Linked DNA regions of Homo sapiens. The protein of the gene in region 1 interacts with the protein of each later gene in a pairwise test. Each region holds a gene or a part of one and is shown on either strand. Other genes may lie near its edges.

Region 1 (3,815 bases):
GTGTCAGGACTGGAACCCCAGCCAGGCTGACTCAGACATCCCTGGGGCCTGAGCCCAGCAGGGCAGCTGTGACTCAAGTTTGCAGGAAGAGGAGGAGGAGGGTGGGGTAAATGGGTGCTTGACGGAAGCCACAACCTCTATTCCCTCAGAAATGGAAGTGCTTGGTGAGGTTTGGTGTGTCCGAGCCGAAGAGCAGCCAATGACAGGCCTGGGGATCGTCTGGCACAGCCCACTTGACAAGGCCTTGGAAACTTGGTCTCTGCAGCAGCAACCGGATTTCAGCCTGGGCCTCGGACACCTCGGCCTGGGTACGGATGCGACTTGGATGCAGTCCTTCCCTGGCAGTGGAGGGGATGCCCAGGCTGGCACAGGAGTCTCGGGTCCTCTCCGGCTCTACCCCAATCTGCTGTGTGATTTTGGGCCCAGGCAGGGACCCCTCTGGGCTCTGTTACTGGAGAAAAGGCAAATGGCTGGTACGGGTGGGTCCCCAGCCCTCCTTGCCTGGAGGTCTGCGAGTTGGAGGGCTCTGGGGTAAAGCCAGAGCCAGGCCCGGGGAGAGCCTAGGCTCATCTCTGGTGAACAGGGTACCCTCTAGCCAAAGCAGGGGCAAGGCGAGGCACATGCCCCTCATATGGGAGCTGGGGCTGACCCCCTCTCCTAGCCCTGCACACCTTGAGCACGTGGCCTTGGCCCATCTGCCCTGTGGGTGGACACTTTCCAGCCCTGGGTCCTGAACTCTACCAATCAGCAGGAACCTAGACTCCTGAGGGGTGCAGCCTGGATGGGAGGTCAGGGAACTGGGTTCCTGAGCGCATCTCTGTGCCATTCATCTCTCCATTGGTTTCCCAAATGTGGACTGAGCACACACTGTGAGTCAGGCCTGAGCTAGGTTCTAGGGATGCTACTGTCAACAAGACAGATGAAGGTTCCTGCCCTCATGGAGGGGAGGGAGACAATAAGCAAAGAAATAAATGCATGATGTAATGTCAGCCAGGGAGCGATGCTGCAAAGCAGGGTGGGCGTGGGGAGTGACGCAGGCCGGGGTTGGGGAGGCATCGTTGTAGTGGTCGGGAAGACTGCTCCGAGAGGCAGACTGAGGGAAGGAGGATGGACATCTAGATGTCTGAGGGAAGGGCCATTTGGGCAGAGGAAAGAGCACAGGGCTCAGTGTGTGTGGGGGGGAGGTTGGAGGGGGCTCCGTGTGTAAGGGTGCGAATGGGGAAGGGAGGCAGGCTGCGAGTGGACAGGGCTATATGTAGACTTCATTCTAACTGTGACGCAAAGGCCTTGCAGGGTTTGGGAGGGGGACATGATCTCATTTGGTCTTCCCAATAACTCCCTGCCAGAAAGAGACAGAGCCCCAAATTGCAGTGAGGAAGCTGAGGCTTAGAGGACATCCCTGCACATGTCTGGGGTGTCATATCATCATCGGAGGAGCTGGGACTCAAACCCAGCTCTGGAACCTGCTCTGTCCCCAGCTCCATGATAACATTGTGTGAGGTGCTGGGTGCAGCTCCCAACTCCTCCCTGCTCAACCATGCTCTGTTAGCCTGTGGTCTACAGAGTGGCTTCCTCCAGGGATGTCTTGATGTCTTGCCTTTTTTTTTTTTTTTTTTTTGAGACAGGGTGTTGCTCCATTGCCCAGGCTGAAGTGCAGTGGTGGGATGATAACTCACTGCAGCCTCAACTTCCTGGGCTTAACAGATCCTCCCACCTCAGCCTCTCAAGTAGCTGAGATTACAGGTGCACACCAATACGCCTGGCTAATTAAAAAACAACAAACAAACAAACAAACAAACAAAAATATGTTTTTTTTGTAGAGATGGGGTCTCACTGGGTTGCCCAGGCTGGTCTGAAACTCTTGCCCTCAAGTGATCCTCCCGTCTCAGACTCTCCAAGTGCTAGGATTGAGCCACCACGCCCATCTGGGATGCCTTGTCTTTTATACCTTTACTCCACAAATATGTGCTTAGGCATTGCTTGCTGTGGCCAGAACCTTGCAGGGGTGAGAGACACAGGTAAATGAGAGCTGGTCCCAGCCCTCCCTCAGAAAGCTGCTGGACCACAGGGTGACAAAACTGAAGCTGTCTGTCACATCCGGGAGCAGGTGCTATGAGGATAAGCAGCCAGAGAAGACCCCTAACTTGATCTGTGGCCATCAAAGAAGGCACCCAAGGCAGGATGCCTCCCTGAATCCTAAAGCCAATTAGCAGTCAGCCAGGACAGCTGCTAGAGGGGGTCTAAGGGGGAGTGGAGAGGATGTTCCAGGCAGAGGGAACAGCAGACAGGAAGGCTCAGAGGTGAGTGTGAGCAGGCAGTCTCAGGGACCCCAGACAGTTGGTGAGGCTGCAGTGCTCAGGGGAGGTGTGCCAACAGGTAAGCTGGCAGGGCCGGGTCCCTGGGGGCTGGCTTGTCCTTTCTGCCATTGTCTGAGAGAGTGGGTGGCTGGTATCTGGTGGCCCAGATGAAGATAATGGAGATGCAATTGTGTTCTTCTTTCTGCTCAGTGCCTCTCAGTTAAGGACATTTGCAAAAATTAATAACAGCATATGCTTTTATGTCCTCCACTTAAATTTCCTTTGGATTAAAGAAAGTAACGGAGGGAAAGGAAGAAAAGCAGGAAGGAGCGAGAGAGGGAGGGGAGAAAGAGACAAAAGAAGGAAAATAATTTGGGGAAAAAAAATTTGTCCTTTTCTGGGCTAAGATAGCCCCAGCCTTTGCATTTTCTCACCCACTGAGTCACCAGCCTCCTGCCCTCTTTCAGGACTGTACATCTTGGCCTCTTACCTACTGTGTCCGCGTCAGCCTCCCTCACAGCCTGATGGCCCCTGCGGCAGCCCCAACCCGGTTTCAGGGGCTAAGAAAACTACAGTTGCATGAACGGGTGGAGGTGAGTGGGAGGCAGAAGCGGCGGGGAGAACCAGTCTGTTCCGAGATCTCTGGACCAACCAGTGGATCCTGATGGTCAGCCTTGTCTAGAGCCCCTTCCAGCGTGCAGGCCAGTCCTCCTGGCATTCTTCTAATTACACCGAGCTGTGAGTTATGTGTGCCAAGTATGTGCTGGATTTTGTACCAAGTGCTTTCCATTCATCAGTTCAGGGTAGTGATGCAGGTAGCTCCAGGCTCAGAGAGGAACAGTGACTTCTCCCAGGTCACACAGCTGGAAAGTGGCTGAGTCTGGATTCAAACCCAGACTTCCTTGTTGCTAGGACCTGTATTTTCAACCACTGCCTATGCCTCTATAACGAGCCAGCTTATGGCTGTGTTCACGCAAAGAGAAAAGCATCCAAATGGGAAGGCTGGAGAATTCAAGCAATTTTCCCGCGTGTCAGACAGTCCTGTTTCCCTCTCCCTTCAAAAAAAGTCCTGGATTATCTCTCTCTCTCTCTCTCTCTTTCTTTTTCCTTTTCCTTTTTGTTTTTTTTCTTTGTTTGTTCTTTCTTTCTTTCTTTTTTTTTTTTTTTGAAACAGGGTATTACTCTGTTACTCAGGCTGGAGTGCAGTGGTGTGATCACAGCCCACTGCAGCCTTGATGTACCTGTGTCCCTGGCCTCAGGTGATCCTCCCACCTCAGCCTCCCAAGTAGCTGTGACTATCCCGAGAAGCTGAGACTACAGGTGTGCGCATGCCATCACGCCTCACTAATTATTTTACTTTTTGTAAAGACAGGTTTTTTTCGCCATGTTACTCAGACTGGTCTTGAACTCCTGGGCTTGAGTGATCCATCGGCTCCCAAAGTGTTGGGATTACAGGCATGAGCCACTGCACCTGGCCTGACATCTCAGTCTTGATTTGCACTTTTTGCCCAAAATAAT
Region 2 (3,190 bases), on another chromosome or scaffold:
AACAAAATGGGTCCAAGGTTGCAAAGAGAGGCCACACTAGAAGAATTCCACTGACTACTTCTATTTATCACCACTTTGCCTCTGGGCCCTGTTGTATCCAGCTCAGGGTCGCCACCTGATTGTGTCCTAACAACTCTAGAAAGCACAGATGTACTTTCTAGCAAGGGTACGGACAAGGGTCAGGTTATATAGCTAGCTAGTACACTAGTAGGACCAGACCCCAGGCTTTCAGACCCCATACCATGTTCTGGCTGCTATATGAACATGCCTCTCTTGAGAAGGACATCCCATATCCTGTTCAGATGAACAGGACCTGTCAGCCTCCAAGTAAAGAGAGAAACTACTAACTGTGCTCTAGAAGCCCCAGAGACTGAGCTGGAAGCACAGGAGGAGGAGAGGCTGTGCTGCAAGATGTGGTCTCCTCAGCCTCAGCCTCTGAAGTCTATAAAACTTAAACAAGAAGCTGGGTGGCAGTGGGGCTGTCAGAACTTCAGGGCTCCCAGAGTCCCCAGAGAGAGTGGAGAGTGCCAGCTAGTATGGCACCTCTGCCCTCCAGGGCCTGTACCTGCTGGGCACCATCCTGAGTGATCAGAGCCACCTGGGGGGCCCCATCTTCTTCAGTCACCATCGCCACCTGGGCTGGGATGTCATCTCTCTCTTCCTTCACCTCCGAAAGGTAAGCTATCCGGGGTCGTTTGGGTGGCGGACTCTCCTCGGCTGCAGAGGCGGCTGGGAGAGGAGAGCCAAGGCTGACATCTGCTACCAGATGCCATGGGGAGGCCTGGCTTGTCCCCACTCTCACCCTCTGCCCACTCCCCTTACCCTCAAGTTGCTGCTGCTCATAGAGGGCCTGCTCGCTCTCCTCCGTGGCCTCCAGCTCGCCGTGGGCACTGCGCTTGTGCATGGCCAAGGTGGAGGTCTGCCGGTAGGTCTTGCCGCAGGTGCTGCAGGTGTAGGGCTTGCAGTGTGTGTGCACCACGTGGTGCTTATACAAGCTCGAGTACTCGGTGAAGCGTTTCCCGCAGCCTGGCACCGTGCAAACGTATGGCTTCTCCCCTGGGGACACTGGGCTGTGAGGGGGGTGGGAACTGGGGCTGGCAAGGGGGAAACTAAGGGGACAGGGGTGAGGGACAGGGTTGGTGAAGGGAGAGCCAGAGGGAGGGAGAGGGACTGAGACCTGAGACTCTGAATGGACAGGGTTGGGGAAGATGGCCAGTGGAACACAGAGAGGACACAGGTGTTGAACCACTGAATCCAGAGACAAGGCGGAAAGGAAACGGGGGACAGGGCAAGGCTGGGGCTAGTGAAGGGGCTGGTAGGGGGCACTGGGGCTTATAAGGTTGAGGGTGGGAGGTTGAGAATGGTGAACAGCAGAGGCAAGAGGCAAGGATGACTGAAGTATCAGTTGTGATGGGAAAGAGGGGACACACATGCTGAGACACAACACAGAAAGCTGGATGAGGGGCATAACACTGGGGAGGGTGAGGATACACAGGAGTCATGGACGGCGGATAAGGTGAGGAGTTGAAGGTGACAGTTCACTCTGCTTCTTCCCCATCATTCCTGACCCTGGCCTCTTTTCAAGAGTTCAGTCAGAGTTGGAGAACTCAGGGTGGGTGTAGAGGGGTGGTAGGGAGCTGAGGGACCCCAGAGAGGACTGGCAATACCTTTCAGATTGGACCTAACTGGAAATTGAGGAATTACTCACTGCAAGCAGAGTTGTTCTGGGGATACCCTACCCCCAGACCAGCCTGGAATGGCTGGCACAGAAGGGTTCTGGGCTGGGAGTTGGGAATGTGTCTTAGATGGGAAGCCTACAGTAGAGGGGTTGGGGCCTGAGTGAGGGTAGTCCTCGCATGCCAGCTAGCCCACCTGTGTGGATGCGCACGTGATTCTTATAGTTGGTGGCGCTGGTGAAGCCGCGGCCACAGTGGGGCTCCGGGCAGGTGTAGGGCCTCTCGCCTGTGTGGGTGCGCACATGTACCTTGCGGATGTTAGATGTGGTGAAGGAGCGGCCACAGCCCTCAAAAGGGCACTGGAACGGGCGTTCACCTATGCAAATGGTGGGATGTGAGGAGGGGTGTGGGAAAGAGGGCCATGCTGGAGCAAGCTGGGGATGGCACTGGGCTCCAGGTCTAAGTCTGAAAGGCAAGCTGAATTCCTTTTGCCCAGGGAATGGGGTTGGAGTGGGCAGGGCCCAGCATACCAGTGTGGGTACGGACATGCTTCTGCAGGTCTCCTGAGGTCTTGAAGGCCTTGCTGCACAGCTCCTCTGGGCACTTGTATGGTTTCTCACCAGTGTGGGTACGAACGTGGCTCTTCAGTCCATAGCCTGTCCATATGTGGCAGGCAGGGGGTGAGATGAGCACCCAGTGGGGTCTCATCCTCCACCGTCCACCTCATGCACAGGCTCTCCACCTCCTTTGGCTCAAGAAGCCCATGTCTGCCTCTATCCCACCCCTGCCCTGGGCAGGGGCTGGAAAAGCCCACTCTGCCCTGCTTCCCTCTCCAGGAGCAGTTGGAGCCATACCAGAACATGAGCATGAAAAGAAACTTAGAGAACTCATGGCTAAAGGTACTAGTTTCACAGAGGGGAAAATAAGCCCAGAGAGATGCAATGGCCCACCCAATAATCCACAGCTGGTTGGCATCAGAGCTGACACAAGAGGCTGGGTCTCTCCACCAACCCTCCAGGCTCCTTCTGCTGGCCTGAACCATGCTGCCTTGCACTCCCGTAACAAGGTTTCCTCCAGAGAGAGCACCCTGCAAGTCAGAGTACTCTGACGGTAGTTTCTCCAGGAAAGCAGCCTGGTGTTGGGTTCCCTTCAGAGAGGTCCCAAACAGAACGAGAACCCTCCACCCTCAACTGGAAGCAGCCCACCAGGCAGGTTACCTGTGGCAAAGGCCTTTCCACAGCTGGGGAAGTCACATCTGTATGGACGGTCACCTGTATGAGCTCGTTCATGCACCTGTGAGGACAAGCAATCACATAATTCAGAGGAGCAAGGGTATGACCAGGGCTCTTTGGTTTTCTTTAGGACCCTGATTCTCTTCCCTCCTGTACCATTCATGTGTGTCAAGCGCTCTGTGCTGGCATTCCTGTGTACCCTCATTTCTTCCCTCCAGCAACGTGAGGGCAGGGACCAATTCCAATCAAAGCAGAAAGGTAGAATTACAGCCTGGGAGGGAA

The links.
Region 2: the proteins of GRAPL (region 1) and ZNF76 interact in binary tests that used the Homo sapiens proteins (3 or more experiments, as listed by UniProt).

Annotation. Positions count from the first base shown.
Region 1 is NC_000017.11:19,154,955-19,158,769, reverse strand, and holds part of GRAPL (GRB2-related adapter protein-like), read right to left. Parts: exon of another isoform or gene 452-3,815; coding exon 394-451; 3' UTR 1-393.
Region 2 is NC_000006.12:35,290,420-35,293,609, reverse strand, and holds part of ZNF76 (zinc finger protein 76), read right to left. Parts: intron 2,970-3,190; coding exon 2,894-2,969; intron 2,333-2,893; coding exon 2,207-2,332; intron 2,053-2,206; coding exon 1,873-2,052; intron 1,071-1,872; coding exon of another isoform or gene 1,057-1,070; coding exon 823-1,056; intron 730-822; coding exon 566-729; intron 1-565. UniProt on the Homo sapiens protein: May be involved in transcriptional regulation.